Linked DNA regions of Homo sapiens: all the other regions are linked to region 3. Evidence: fine-mapped expression QTL. A gene starts in region 3. Each other region holds a variant in brackets. All regions are shown on one strand. Distances are between the middles of the regions. Region 1 overlaps D2HGDH (D-2-hydroxyglutarate dehydrogenase). Region 2 overlaps D2HGDH (D-2-hydroxyglutarate dehydrogenase). Region 3 holds the start of D2HGDH (D-2-hydroxyglutarate dehydrogenase).

Region 1 (5,085 bases), 35 kb after region 3:
GAGTAGGAAGAGGGGGGAGAAGTTGGGGAGATGGGAGCCCCGGGCTGAGGGAGTAGGAAGAGGGGGGAGAAGTTGGGGAGATGGGAGCCCCGGGCTGAGGGAGTAGGAAGAGGGGGGAGAAGTTGGGGAGATGGGAGCCCCGGGCTGAGGGAGTAGGAAGAGGGGGGAGAAGTTGGGGAGATGGGAGCCCCGGGCTGAGGGAGTAGGAAGAGGGGGGAGAACTTGGGGAGAGAAGCAGGGAGAAGCCAAGGTAGCAGCGGCCCCAGAGGAGGGGTCGGCACGTCCAGGGCGAGTGGCATGAGGGTGAGGCTCAGCCGGGGGTCTCGGGGTTGCTGGGGAGGGGATCTTGGGAGGGGCTGTTGGGGGAGGAGTGGGGTCCTGGGGGCTGCCCTGCCCAGCCTGACCCATGTGCCCTTGTCCCTCCAGGAGATGGTAACCTGCACCTCAATGTGACGGCGGAGGCCTTCAGCCCCTCGCTCCTGGCTGCCCTGGAGCCCCACGTGTACGAGTGGACGGCCGGGCAGCAGGGCAGCGTCAGCGCGGAGCACGGAGTGGGCTTCAGGAAGAGGGACGTCCTGGGCTACAGCAAGCCACCGGGGGCCCTGCAGCTCATGCAGCAGCTCAAGGCCCTGCTGGACCCCAAGGGCATCCTCAACCCCTACAAGACGCTGCCCAGCCAGGCCTGACGGCCACTCCTGCTGCTGCCAAGGCCCACTGGGGGTCGGCGGGTGGCTCTCGGGCGGGGGTGTTGCGGTGGCTCTGAGGGATGAGCCGGCAGTGGGCAGGGGACCAGGCACCTGGTTGAAGGGACTGGGAGCCCGCACTGGGGAACTGCCGGACGCAGGCCCTCGGGCAGGAGCATCTGGCAGAGTGGGGGGCGTGGCAGGCACCCTCCTTTGCAGGGCGAGGTGGGGCCTCTGCAGCCATCCTGGACAGGCCGGGGTGGCGGCAGCTTTGCCCACGTGGAAGCGGGGTGGGTCTCACTTGCGTGGTGGCCCCTGGCCCCATCTTGCCTGCTGCGGCCTGGGGAGCAGGCGCTGGGTGGTGGTTCTGCCTGCTTGCTGCTCGTTCCCCGGGCATGCGTGGGCAGCGGGGGGCATGCGTGGGCAGCAGGGGGCGTGGGCAGCGGGGGCACGGGCAGGACCACGTGGGCCGTGATCGTGGGTTGCCGAGAGGACCTGAGCGCTGCGGCTCTGCTGAATGGAGCCGGGTCCCTCAGGCCGTGGACGCCCTCGGGAGGGGGGTGACTGTGGCTTGTGTCTGGACAGGAATGTGTCATTTCCCACATCTTCTAGAGGGCTGCCAGCTGGGAAGACAGTTATCAGGGCAAGCTGTGCTCTGAGTTTCGGGTTCTGCTCCTACAAAGAACGTGCGGTGCTGCGGGCGAGGGCCCCGGCACGGACAAGGGCCACTGCAGAGTGTGTTTCTGCTCGTCAGCTGCCCTGGGCAGCGGATGGGCTGGGCGATGCAGCTGGATGCACATCTCATTCTGTCATGAATGTCCAGTAAAAATCTGAATTGGTTGCAACCTTCTCTTTGCTTCTGTTACTGGAAAATCATCTTTCAGAGCCCATTGTGAAGGGCCTGTGCATCCCATTCCCACAGCCCCTGGACCACTGGGGCCATAGTGTGGCCGGGCCTGACACTACTGTGACTGTCACTGTGCCTCCTGTCCCCATGCACTGTCTGGTGGCAGCTGAGCTCCCACCGGCTGCACAGGGCAGGCCTGGACATGGAACGGGCAACTCATAACCCTTGGTGGCCCTGGAGGCCCTCAGCAGCTGGGCCTGACCGAGGTGTATCCACGGGCCCCTCCTGTCCCTGTGGGTGTCGAGGACCTCGGATCCTGCTCAGAGGGGGAAACATACCTCTGACCCGCTGCCCTGCAGAGCCCGCCTGCCTAGCCAGGGCCTCTGTGTGGACAGGCCACGTCCTCCTGGTGGAGGTCCTCGGGGGATGGGTGGGGGCCTTGGTCCAGCATGATTTTTTTTTTTTGAGACAGGATCTCACTCTGTCACCCAGGCTGGAGTGCAGGGGTATAGTCACAGCTCAGTGCAGCCTCCACCTCCTGGGCTCAAGTGATCCTCCCACCTCAGCCTCCTGAGTAGCTGGGAGTACAGGTGTGAGCCATCATGCCCAGATAATTTTTTTTTTTTTTTTTGAGACAGAGTCTTGTTCTGTCACCCAGGCTGGAGTGCAGTGGTGCGATCTTGGCTCACTGCAAGTTCCGCCTCCCGGGTTCACGCCATTCTCCTTCCTCAGCCTCCCGAGTAACTGGGACTACAGGTGTCCACCACCGTGCCCGGCTAATTTTTTGTATTTTTAGTAGAGATGGGGTTTCACCTTCTTAGCCAGGATGGTCTTGATCTCCTGACCTCATGATCTGCCCGCCTCGGCCTCCCAAAGTGCTGGGATCACAGGCATGAGCCACCGCACCCGGCCATGCCCAGATAATTTTTAAATTTTTTTTTTTGTAGAGATGAGGTGTCCCTGTGTTGCCCAGGCTGGTCTTGAACTCCTGGCCTCCAGCGGCCTCCCACCTCAGCCTCCCAAAGTGCTGGGATTACAGGCCCGAGCCTCTGCGTCCAGCCGATCCAGCATGCTTTGAAGGCACAAATCAGGGGCACTTTCATGCTGGCCCAGCAGAGCCAGTGGGTCCCGCCC[A/G]ATGCCTGGGCTACTTCCTGCTGTGCCTGGGGGCACCTGGGGCTGTCCTGCCTCACTGGCCAAGGCCCGGCTCTGTCCCTGGGCTCTGGCCACTGTTCTGCCATCCCAGGCTGGGTACCCATGGGCAGCCCGACAGTATCTGTTGCACAGAGCAGACCCCAGGCCCCATGGGTGCCTGACACGAAGCCCCACAGCGTGTGCCCGCGTCCCCCGAGGTCAGCCGGCGGCTCCTGCCCTTCCCTCTGACCTCTGGTTGGGGGCCGGCCATTTTTCTGCTTGTTCCTCTAGCTCTGCTACTGGGCACATGGTCCGTGCTGGGTAGGCTGCAGGCCAGGGTGAGTTGCTGACCCGCTGACCCTGGCTGTGCACCTGCCCTCCTGCCCTGGGTGGCTGCTGCTGGCCCAGGGGTGACTTGGGGGCTTTCAAGCTTCTGCCCGTGCTGGCCGCACGACCCCACGTCCCACCCTGGGTAGGGACTTGTGATTCTCAGAGCTGGGGTCCGTTGCTTTCCTAAGGACCTCCGGCCCTGGTCGTGGTCTAAATGCTCACTCCTGTTGTTGGAGAGGCCAGCCGGGTGACAGGGAAAAGCCCAGAGCCCCGGGCTTCCCGTGAGGATCTGGGCTCAGCATGGGCTGTGGGGCTGCAGAGGCCTGGCCTTGCCTGCTGAGGGACACCCGCTGGTAGTGCCTGCAGAGGGGGGAGGAGGAATTCCTCCCCCTAGTGCCCTCTGGACCCTGGGAGAGCAAGACCTCTGCATCCACACTGCCTTCCGCTGGGCCTCTGGGGACTGGGGAAGCGGACACAGTCCAGGACTGTTGGAGGAGGAAGAGGCTGCGGCTGCTCTTCCCTGGGGGTCCGGCTCCAGGAGGCTGCGGTGACCGTTGGGCCGGAGCAGGCCAGTGCCGGGCACGTCCTGCCCATGACAGCCCTGCTGCCAGCCGTGGGCACTTGTTCCTGGAGCTCCGTGGCTGGGTCCTGCCGTCTCCGCTGCTGCCCTGCCCTGCCATGTTCACCTCCAGTTTATCCAGCAATGGGGAGAGGGGCTTCTTAGATCCCCCTCAGGCTTTTCTTTTGTGCCTTTAGATATGTGAAATACAACACAGCCAGGCAAAGCAGGTGCCGGTGAGACACCTGGCTGGCCCGAGCTGGCCCGAAGAACTGCCTGTCTGCCATGAGGAAAACCCACACTGCGTGGTGGCTGGGAGGCCAGGAGTTTTCACAAGCCGGAAACCTGTTAGATTTCTCTACCTGACAGCAGGAAAATCTGATGAGACCCGATCGCATCCAGGCAGGCCGTGTTCTCGCAGCCCGCGGGTTAACACAGACTCCGAGTGACTCCGACGCAGGAGAACGCGGCGAATCTGCGTGAGGCAGGCCACCAGCCTTGGTGCCCCGGAGACAGCTCCCCCAACGGCCATGTGACGGCGTTGAGTGTCCGTGGTCAGGTGTGTGTAAGAGACGCGCAGAGAATTCCACGCCGTCCCAACCTCCCAGCCGGAGGCTCTGACGAGGCCTGCAGCCACGCGGAAAGAGCAATGAGGAGCACGTGTGTGGGGAGGAAGGCGGGTTCTGGCCCCGTTCCTTCCGCAGCAGCTCCGGCCTGGCGGGTTCTGACGGAATTCTGCAGCGGCTCCAGCCAGGGTCGTCGGGGCGGGGTGGGTGCTCAGGGGCGGCCTTTGTGTTCGGATTAGAAGCTGGTGATTGTCACATTAAGACCTCTAAGCTGCTGCAATCTGAGAAGATGTTACACAACCAGGGCCCCTGAGCTGAGGCCAAGGAGGGGGCCAGGAGAGTGGTGGGAGGGGCCCCAGGCAGGGCCAGAGCTGCCTGTGTACAGCAGGGGAGAGGGGAGAAGGGGTGGGCCGGGTGGTCTCAGCCCCAGGGAGAGTGGAGTGCCCGCCCCTCCCCTCCCCCAGGACGGCTGGCCCCTGGGAGAGCCCCTGGGGGAGCCAGTTTCCTGTAAGCAGAAGGGCAAGTGGTTGGGACCCAGAGGTGTCTGACAGTTGTGGACTTAGAGCCCAGAGGAAGGGTTTGGGGTTTGGGGCTCCTGGGACGCCGCAGGCCCCTGAGGACGTCCATCAGGATCCTGGCAGTGTGGAGGTGTAGGGTCCAGCCCTACGGGGCTTAGCGGGTGTTTTCCCTGTGTGTGGAGATGAGGGATTGTAATAAATAAAGACACAAGATAAAGAGAGAAAGAGAAAGCAGCTGGGCTCTGGGGACCACTACCATCAAGACGCGGGGACCAGTAGTGGTCCCAGAGGGCTAGGCCCACTGATATTTATTGCATACAAGACAAGGGGGCAGGGTAAGGAGGGTGAATCTTCTCAGTGATTGACAAGGTGAAGTAAGTCATGTGATTACAGGATAGGGGGCCCTTCCCTTTTAGGTAGCCGAAGCAGAGACGGAAGGCAGCAAACGTCA
Region 2 (5,079 bases), 24 kb after region 3:
CGTGGAGCCTGGGACATTCACTGTCTGGGATTGATTCCAGGGTTGGAGCCACACCTGGTCTGGGGCATTCGCTGTCCTGGGTCAGAGCCCCTCCTGGTCTGGGACATTCGCTGTCTGGGGTTGGAGCCACACCTGGTCTGGGGCATTTGCTGTCCGGGGTCGGAGCCTCACCTGGTGAAGATACAGAACATGCTGCTGCCCTAACCCCGTGTGGTGTGCCCCCTGTCCCCGGGTGTCGTTCCCATAGCCAGCCCTTGTCTCATCTCGTCTCATCCTCTAGATGCTGTGGGCCCTGAGGGAAAGGATCACAGAGGCGCTGAGCCGGGATGGCTACGTGTACAAGTACGACCTCTCCCTCCCTGTGGAGCGGCTCTACGACATCGTGACTGACCTGCGCGCCCGCCTCGGCCCGCACGCCAAGCACGTGGTGGGCTATGGCCACCTTGGTGAGCGGCGCCCCGGGGCCGCGGCCCTGTGTGTGCTGGGTGGTGGGCCCCACGGTCACCGTCACCCTGCCAGGCTTCGAGGCAGGGCAGTTTGACCATGGTCTCTGGCTTAGCATATCTCCCGTAGACACTGGCAGGACCACGGTGTCTGACAGGGAAGGGAAAATCCTAATCGTTGTCATGACTCGTTTTGAGTATTTTGGAAAAGACTGCCATCGTGCACTTGTAATGGCAGAGCGCATGGCTCAGCTTGTCAGAACGTTCTGGGATCTTCAGTGGCATGCAGGGTTGGAGGGCATCAGCCTTAACCCCGGAGTCCGGGATGCGGGTCTCAGGGGCTCCTCTCACAGGGCCCGGCCCCGAGGCCTTTGCAGTGCTTAGCCCCCAGCTGCTCTACCCCTTCAGATGGGAGGATTTCAAAACCACGTTCAGATCATCTTTTTTCTGCAGAAAAATCATGCTTTAACGTGTAAGCTATTAATTCATAGGAAGAAAATGTTTCAATCCTATCAGTTCTTTTTTTTGAGACGCAGTTTCACTCTTGTCACCCAGGCTGGAGTGCAGTGGCGCAATCTCGGCTCACTGCAACCTCCATCTTCTGGGTTCAAGCAATTCTCCTGCCCCAGCCTCCCGAGTCTCTGGGATTACAGGCGTCCACCACCAGGCCTGGCTAATTTTTGTATTTTTAGTAGAGACAGGGTTTTGCCATGTTGGCCAGGCTGGTCTTGAACTCCTGACCTCTGGTGATCTGCCCACTTCGGCCTCTCAAAGTGCTGGGATTACAGGAGTGAGCCACCGTGCCCAGCTGTTTTCCTGTCAGTTCTTTGGAGCCTTGGAGCGAGGTGTCTAAAAGGCCAGCTTATAGGGCAGGGGTGGGGGCAGTGCTGGGGGTGTGGAGCATGGCTTTGGGGCCTGACAGATATTCACTCTGGCTTCTTCCCTGGCCTGGTGGCACTGGAGTCACTGACCTGAAGCCTCCATCCATCTGCCAGTAAATGGGATTCAGGTGCCACCTCTGTGGTTACAGGAGGGTCTAGGGTTGTGTACGTGACGACAATAACACGTATTACTTACGAAGGTCCCGTGCTGTCCCAGGCATTATTCTAAGCACTTGATGTGGAGAAACTTCTCTGCACAACAGCTTTTAGGACTGGTGGTGTTGCTTCCCTTTTACACACATGTAAACAGGTTCAGAGAATTTAAGTAACTTGCCCAAAGTTGCCCAGCCTGTGGAGGGGTACATCTGGAGGATTTGACATAGGATGGATGGTAATCTTCTGTGATAGGAAGGCAGGACTCCTGAATGGGAAGGGGGTAAGGGCATGATGAGTGTGTCATCATCCAGAGAAGAGGGGTACGGGAGCCCCAGTATTTCAGAATATGGGAAGGGGGTAAGGGCATGATGAGTGTGTCATCATCCAGAGAAGAGGGGTACGGGAGCCCCAATATTTCAGAATATGGGAAGGGGTTAAGGGCATGATGAGTGTGTCATCATCCAGAGAAGAGGGGTACGGGATCCCCAATATTTCAGAATATGACCTCAAGCCAGGAGGAGGCTTCCTCCTCTCCAGGTAACTTCAGTCTCTCTTGGCCACAGATAAAGCAGACCATCTTGGTGAGAAATGGAATGAGCCCTCTGTTACTTTGTAAAAGCAAGAATGGGCCAGGCGCAGTGGTTCATGCCTGTAATCCCAGCACTTTGGGAGGCTGAGGCGGGTGGATCACCTGAGGTCAGGAGTTCGACACCAGCCCGGCCAACATGATGAAACCTCGCCTCTACTAAAAATACAAAAAATTAACTGGGCATGGTGGCAGGCACCTGTAATCCCAGCTACTCGGGAGGCTGAAGCAGGAGAATCACTTGAACCCAGGAGGCGGAGGTTGCAGTGAGCAGAGGTTGCACCATTGCACTCCAGCCTGGGTGACAAGAGTGAAACTCCATCTCAAAAAAAAAAAAAAAAGCAAGAATGAATGTTGAATTTTTAAAATGTGTTTCCTGCATCTGTCATGGTGACCGGGTGCTTGTCTGCCTGTAATCAGTGTGGTAAGTTACACTGATTGATCCCTCTGGAGTCAGATGAGTCTGTGTTTCTGGGGTAGGCCCAAGGTGGCCATGATCCTTTCTGTATCTTGCTGGATGAGTTTGTTTATGTTTGGTGTGGGATTTTGACAGGGGTCTTGGTGGATGATTCTGTTCCACGCTGTTCCTTTCTTCTGTCCATGCTGGATTTTGGTATCAAAATCATAACATGAATATTATGCAGAACTTGCCAGTGGAGCTGTTTGGGCCTGGAGGTTTTTTTGAGGGAGTATTTTAAAATTATAGCTCAGCTTCTTCAATAGCTTTAGGACTTTCAAGCTTTCCTTTCTTCTAGATTGGTATTGCTAATTTTTTCCCATATTGGCATAAAGTTGTTCGAATATTCTTTTGTTGTCTTTTTATGTAGCATTTGTGGGATGCCCCCACACCCTTTTTTTTGGTGGGGACAGGGTCTCGCTGTCACCCAGGCTGGAGTGCAGTGGCTCACCACAGCCTCGACCTTCTGGGATCAAGCAGGCCCGCCACCT[C/G]ACACACACCAGCAGGCCTGGCTAACTAAAAAAAAATTTTTTTGTAGGCCCGGTGCAGTGGTTCACGCCTATAATCTCAGTACTTCAGGAAGCCAAGGCTGGAAGGATCACTGGAGTCCAGTAGTTCTAGACCAGCCTGGGCAACACAGTGACATCTGATCTATACCGCCCCCCGCCCCACAATATATGTGTGTGTGTGTGTGTGTGTGTGTGTGTGTGTGTGTGTGTGTAGAGCCAGACTCATGTAGAGCCAGTTGTGTGGCCGGACCGGTCTTGAACTCCGGGGCCTCAAGCAAATGCTCCCTCCTTGGCCTCTCAAAGCCAGAGATTACAGGCGTGAGGTACTGTGCCTGGCATTATTTGCTGCTTGCATTATCATTCCTTCTTTGACCGATGAGTTATGCAGAAGTGTGTTTCTTAATTTCCAAACGTGGTGGTTTTCTAGTTATTTTAAAAATTATTGATTTCTTTTTTATTGCATTATACCCAGGAAACTTCGTCCTTATCAGATCAGATTTTTGAAACTTGATCAGTGGCAGCTTATGATCAGCCTTCGTAACTGTGGAGTGCTTGAAAAGAATGTGCTCTCTGCAGTTGCTGGAATCAGTGTTTGTACAGATCCATCAGATAGAAGTATACGTCGCGTGTTCATTCTACATCCTGCTGACCTGCCACTCCCTGAGGGAGGTGTTAGAAATCTGCTGACAACAGACTAATCTGTTCCTCCTGTAGCTTTGCCAGTTCTGGAGACGTGTTCTTAGGGGCATAGGACATGAGGTTCGTCTCTTTGTTTTGGGAAACTGAATCTCCTAACGCGATGGACTCGCTCTTTATCTCCAGCATTGCCCGCTGCCTTGGTGTCTGCTTTGTTTATTACACAGTGATGCTAACTTTCTTTTATTTAGTGTTTGCCTGATGTGTTGTTTTTCCTCCGGTTAGCTTCAGCTTTTCCATCCTTAGTGATTTAGATGTGTTTCTTGTGGACGCCCCCGGACAGGTTTCTTGCGTACTTGTTTGCCGTCTTGAATGAGAGCGTTTGGCTGCTGAGCACGTGCTGTGGCCCACTGTTTGGATTTGTCTACTTCACCCTGCTCTTTGTCTCTCACTTCTTGTCTATTTTTTCCTCTGTTTTTTGCTCTTCTGGTTTATGTTCTTTGTCATTTAGCTTTTTGCCGTTTACTAACTGTTGGTGGTCGCCCTGGCACCACAGTGGACATTTCTAGCCCTCTGGGTTTGAGGTTAATCAGAGTCACTATCTTCCTCCCAAATAATGTGTGATGGTGAATTCTCTGCGTCCACTTGTCTGGGCCCTGGTACCCTCGTTTGGTCAAACTCCAGTTTGGATGTTTCTGTGAAGATATTTTTTATGTGTGATTAACATTTAAATCAGTAGACGTTGAGTACAGGAGATCTCCCACCACAGTGTGGGTGGGCCTTACCCAATCAGTCGAAGGACTTCGCCACAGCGTGGGTGGGCCTTACCCAGTCGAAGGCCTTCGCCACAGCATGGGTGGGCCTTACCCAATCAGTCGAAGGACTTCGCCACAGCGTGGGTGGGCCTTACCCAATCAGTCGAAGGCCTTTGCTACAGTGTGGGTGGGCCTTACCCAATCAGTCGAAGGACTTCGCCACAGCGTGGGTGGGCCTTACCCAATCAGTCGAAGGCCTTTGCTACAGTGTGGGTGGGCCTTACCCAATCAGTCGAAGGACTTCGCCACAGCGTGGGTGGGCCTTACCCAATCAGTCGAAGGCCTTTGCTACAGTGTGGGTGGGCCTTACCCAATCAGTCGAAGGCCTTTGCCACAGCGTGGGTGGGCCTTACCCAATCAGTCGAAGGCTTTTTGCCACAGCGTGGGTGGGCCTTACGCAATCAGTTGAAGGCTTTTTGCCACAGCGTGGGTGGGCCTTACCCAGTCAAAGGCCTTTGCCACAGCGTGGGTGGGCCTTACCCAATCAGTCAAAGGCCTTTGACACAGCGTGGGTGGGCCTTGCCCAATCAGTCGAAGTCCTTCGCCACAGTGTGGGTGGGCCTTACCCAATCAGTCGAAGTCCTTTGCCACAGTGT
Region 3 (5,084 bases):
TTTTTTTTTTTGAGACAGAATCTCACTCTGTCGCCAGGCTGGAGTGCAGTGGCGTGATCTCAGCTTACTGCAACCTCTGCCTCCCAGGTTCAAGCCATTCTCTTGCCTCAGTCTCCCAAGTAGCTGGGATTATAGGCACCGACCACCATGCCCAGCTAATTTTTGTATTGTTGGTAGAGACAGGGTTTCACCATGTTGGCCAGGTTGGTGTAGGGACCAGCCCCACAGGGTCGGTGGGTCTCTCCCCATGTGCGGAGACGAGAGAGTACAGAAATAAAGACACAAGACAGAGATAAAAGAAAAGGCAGCTGGGCCTGGGGGACCACTACCATTAAGTTGCGGAGACCGGTAGTGGCCCCGAATGCCAGGCTGCACTGATATTTATTGGATACAAGACAAAGGGTCAGGATAAGGAGAGTGAGCCATCTCCAATGATAGGTAAGGTCATGTGGGTCACGTGTCCACTGGACAGGGGCCCTTCCCTGCCTGGCAGCCGAGGCAGAGAGAGAGAGGAGACAGAGAGACAGCTTACGCCATTATTTCTGCTTATTAGAGACTTTTAGTACTTTCACTAATTTTGCTACTGCTATCTAGAAGGCAGAGCCAGGTGTACAGGATGGAACATGAAGGCGGACTAGGAGCGTGACCACTGAAGCACAGCATCACGGGGAGACGGTTAGGCCTCCGGATAACTGCGGGCGAGCCTGACTGATGTCAGGTCCTCCACAAGAGGTGGAGGAGTACAGTCGTCTCTAAACTCCCCCGGGGAAAGGGAGACTCCCTTTTCCGGTCTGCTAAGTAGCGGGTGGTGTTTCTTGACACTTTTCGCTACCGCTAGACCACGGTCCGCTAGGTAACGGGTGTCTTCCCAGACGCTGGCGTCACCGCTAGACCAAGGAGCCCTCTGGTGGCCCTGTCTGGGCATAACAGAAGGCTCGCACTCTTCTGGTCACTCCTCACTATGTCCCCTCAGCTCCTATCTCTGTATGGCCTGGTTTTTCCTAGGTTATGATTGTAGAGCGAGGATTATTATAATATTGGAATAAAGAGTAATTGCTACCAACTAATGATTAATGATATTCATATATAATCATATCTAAGATCTATATCTGGTATAACTATTCTTATTTTATTATACTGGAACAGCTCGTGTCTTCGGTCTCTTGCCTCGGCACCTGGGTGGCTTGCCGCCCACAGTTGGTATCGAACTCCTGACCTCAGGTGATCCACCTGCCTCAGCCTCCCAAAGTGCTGGTATTATGGGCGTGAGCCACCGTGCCTGGTCAGAAAAATCAGTTATTTTAGGGGATGGTATGGGTGGTAATCTTTATGGGTTTTGAATCATTCCTAATCCCAGGGGTCCAAGATGCCACTGGCCTGCTAGTCAAAGGGAGGGCGTGTGGAGGTCAGGTGGTAAGGGGGTCCACAGACCTCATCTGTGGTCGTCTTTCCAGTTCCTGAATGTGTAATTGCAACAGTTACCCTTGACAATGGGCAAACTCCCACACTCATCTGCAGAGCAAGGGCCAGCCAGGTAGGAAGGGCCAGGTGGATGTCTCCTTTCCAGGGTTGTATGAATGATTCACCTGGGAAGAAGGTGAGTGGCCTCTGGGGATGTGGTTAAGGAGGACAGGAATGACTCCTTGCAACTGCTGCTCCAGAGCCTCATCACCAGGACAAATCCAGCTCGCCGGTTTTCTGTGTGACTACCAGGACCCATCTGCTGTCACGGGCGTAGCCTCCACCTCTTGCACAGCTCCGCAGTCCTGCCTCGGGCCAAGTGTGGTCTCCTGCTCTCTGCCCTCATCTGCTCAGAGATTGGCATCCTCTGCACCCGCTAGGGTTCTATGGAATTGGGTGAGCTGAAGTAACAAGTGCTTTGGGAGGCCGACGCGGGCGGATCGCTTGAGTCCAGGAGTTCGAGACCAGCCTGGGCAGCACATGAGACCTCATCTCTACAAAAATACAACAACAACAAAAAATTAGCCGGGTGTGGTGGTGCACGCCCGTAGTCCCAGCTACTTGGGTGGCCGAGGTGGGAGGATGGTTTGAGCTCGGGAGGCAGAGGTTGCAGTGAGCTGAGATCAACCCCAGAACTCCAGCCTGGGCAACAGAGCTAGACCCTGTCTCAAAAAAACACAAAACAAGTGCTGGCGATGCCTCAGGCAGGGGATCCCAGGCCGGGAGGCTCCTCGGGACAGCAGTTACTGCGTCAGGAGGGCAGGAGCTCCCCAGGTGTGCAAAGGGTTTGAGGGCACGGAGGGCTGAACAGGCAGAAGGGACAGGGAGGCAAGAAAACACCTGCAGGAGGCAGCTGCCCCCTAAGCTAAGGCTGGGGACCCAGGAGGGGTGGTCCGTGCAGGAGCTGGGGAGGCCGCTGGGGAAAGGGGCGCCCCCTGGGCTCGGCCTCGGAGGAGCGGGCCGGCCCCCAGGTCCCTCGGCCGAGCCCACGTCCCGGGCCTCGTTCTGGAGAACCCTCCAGCTGCTGCTTGGGCGTCTTGGGCTGCGCTCAGCCTAGTCCCTTCTCTACCTGGAGGGATGCGCCCGACAGCCGGCGCGCCGGAGGCCCTCAGGAAACGCAGGACGAGGCGGTGGCCGTCGAGCCTCCGGTGCCAGTCGGGGCGGGGCTTGGACGGCGGGGCGGGGACTGTAGGCGCGCAGGGCTGGGCCTGGAGGGCAGGCGGGGCGGGGCCCGTTAGGCGCGCGGGGCGGGGCTTCGGCCGCTGGGCGGAGCCGTCAATGCGCAGGCGCGGCGTCGCCCCGCCCACTCCGGCTCGGCGGCTCTGGGCCTGCGGCGGGCGCTGCGGGTTGGAGCTCGGGACGTGATCGTGGGTGCGTGCGCGCGGCCGCGCGGAGCGCTGGGCTGAGGGTCCCGGTCTGCGGTTCAGCCGCGGGTCGGGGTGGCGGGGCGCGATCTCGGGCGCCGTCAGCCAGTCGGTGCCTGTGGGGGGAGGGGGACGGCGCTGCAGCTCGTCACGTGACCGCGTGGAACACGCGCGCGCGTCCGCGGGATCCCCTCGGGGGGCGAGCTCGGAGGAACGGGGTCCTGGGCAAGGTCCCGGCGAGGCCGCCCCGAGCCTGCGCGTCGCTAAGTCCAGGCCTGCTGCGTGGGGCTTCGCGCGCTCGCGGGGTTGCGGCCCGGGCAGGGGGAGGGCCCGGGTGCTCGGAGCCTTCCCTTCGCTGCCCTCCTGCCCCCTCCCTGCTTCTGCAAGCGTGTTTCAATTTGTACAACGTGCATAAAACATGAAATTACCCTTGGCCACTTCCAGGCGCGCAGCCAGCGGCTCCCTGCCCTTCCCCTCCGGGCCCTGAGTACCGGCCCCCCACCAAGGAGGAGCCCGAGGTCTCCGTCCCGGCGGCGATGCTGCCCCGTCGGCCTCTGGCGTGGCCCGCGTGGCTGTTGCGGGGTGCTCCGGGAGCCGCGGGTTCTTGGGGTCGGCCGGTTGGCCCCCTGGCCCGCAGAGGCTGCTGCTCCGCCCCGGGGACCCCCGAGGTGCCGCTGACCCGGGAGCGCTACCCCGTGCGGCGCTTGCCGTTCTCCACGGTGTCTAAGCAGGACCTGGCCGCCTTTGAGCGCATCGTGCCCGGCGGGGTCGTCACGGACCCGGAAGCGCTGCAGGCTCCCAACGTGGACTGGTTGCGGACGCTGCGAGGTGGGTGAGGCTTGGGAAGCTGCGGCGTTTCCGCGTCCCTGCTCCGCTGCGCCTTCCCGTGGAGGCTTCAAAGCGGGCTGAGAACAACCTGGATGGGGGTGCCAGCCCCTGGCTGCGCTGAGAGGGGCGTGTGCACCGCCACAGGCTGCTGGAATGAATGACCACGAACGAGTCGCTTAGAACAACCCAAGTTTTGTTGTTGTTGTTGTTTTGTTTTTTCTTTTTTTTAAGACGGAGTCTCACTCTGTCGCCAGGCTGGAGTGCAGTCACGGAGTTTCACTCTGTCGCCAGGCCGGAGTGCAGTGGCGCGACGTCGGCTCACTGCCACCTCTGCCTCCCGGGTTCAAGCGATTTGCCTGCCTCAGCCTCCCTAGTAGCTGCGACTACAGGCGCCCGCCACCACGTTCCGCTAATTTTTGTATTTTTAGTAGAGACAGGGTTTCACCATGTTGGCCAGGATGGTCTCGATCTCTTGACCTCGTGATCCGTCCGCCTCGGCTTCCCAAATTGCTGGGATTACAGGCGTGAGCCACCCCGCCCTGCCAACAACCCAAGTTTGCCTGGCGCAGTGGCTCTGCCTGTAATCTCAGCTGCCCTGGAGGCTGAAGCCAGGAGTTCAAGACCAGCCTGGGCAACATAGCCAGAACCCCCGCCCCACTCACCTCTAAAAATAAAAATAAATAAATAAAAGTAGCCGGCCCAGGATTGAAAAAACAAAAAGTAAAAAAGTTACTCCAGCCCAGGAGTTCCAGTTTTAGTGGACTATGATCTCACCACTGCATTCCAGCCTGGGCAACAGAGCAAGACTACATCTCTAAAACAAAACAGAATTCCCCTCCCCACCAAACCCCACAAGTTTGTTCTCTAAGCTCTGGAGGCCAAAAGTGTGAAATCAGGGTATCACAGGGCTGCGCTCCCTCCAAAGCCTCCAGAGGAGGCTCCTTCCTGCCTCTTGTAGCTCTAGCTCCTGGTGGCCCCAGGTACCAAATTACTCCAGTCTCTGCCTCTGTTTTTCATACAGGTTTTTCTTCTCTGTGACTCTTCTCCAGTTGTCTTATAAAGACACTTCTCATTGGATTGAGGGCCCACCCTAATCCAGGATGATCGTATCTCAGTACTGTCAACTTAATTACATCTGCAAAGACCGTTTATCCGTTTTTTTTTTTTTTGGAGATGAAGTCTCACTCTTTTTGCCCAGGCTGGAGTGCAATGGTGCAATCTTGGCTCACTGCGACCTTCCCCTCCTGGGTGTAAGCAATTCAGCCTCCCAAGTAACTGGGATTACAGGTGCCCGCCACCATGCCCGGCTAATTTTTGTATTTTTAGTAGAGACGGGGTTTCACCATGTTGACCACGCTGGTCTCGAACTCCTGACTTCGGGTGATCCACTCACATTGGCCTCCCAAAGTGCTGAGATGACAGGCATGAGCC

What was found. PIP is the estimated chance that this variant, and not a neighbour inherited with it, causes the effect.
Region 1: its variant is fine-mapped to the expression of D2HGDH in whole blood (TOPMed, PIP above 0.99).
Region 2: its variant is fine-mapped to the expression of D2HGDH in whole blood (TOPMed, PIP above 0.99). The same link has a PIP of 0.9 or more in subcutaneous fat.

What each region holds. Positions count from the first base shown.
Region 1 is chr2:241,767,284-241,772,368 of GRCh38, forward strand. D2HGDH (D-2-hydroxyglutarate dehydrogenase) reads left to right here. Exons shown (of 10, transcript NM_152783.5): 10 at 427-1,528. The coding sequence ends at 686. Among named protein-coding and RNA genes, the nearest start is that of GAL3ST2, 7.0 kb to the right of the region's middle. RefSeq lists an enhancer at 3,480-4,392. The variant A/G (reference allele first, on the strand shown) is at 2,665.
Region 2 is chr2:241,755,569-241,760,647 of GRCh38, forward strand. D2HGDH (D-2-hydroxyglutarate dehydrogenase) reads left to right here. Exons shown (of 10, transcript NM_152783.5): 9 at 281-446. Among named protein-coding and RNA genes, the nearest start is that of GAL3ST2, 19 kb to the right of the region's middle. The variant C/G (reference allele first, on the strand shown) is at 3,015.
Region 3 is chr2:241,731,864-241,736,947 of GRCh38, forward strand. D2HGDH (D-2-hydroxyglutarate dehydrogenase) reads left to right here and starts at 2,767. Exons shown (of 10, transcript NM_152783.5): 1 at 2,767-2,832; 2 at 3,270-3,653. The coding sequence starts at 3,362. RefSeq lists silencers at 2,294-2,343, 2,384-3,433, 3,444-3,553 and an enhancer at 3,594-3,833.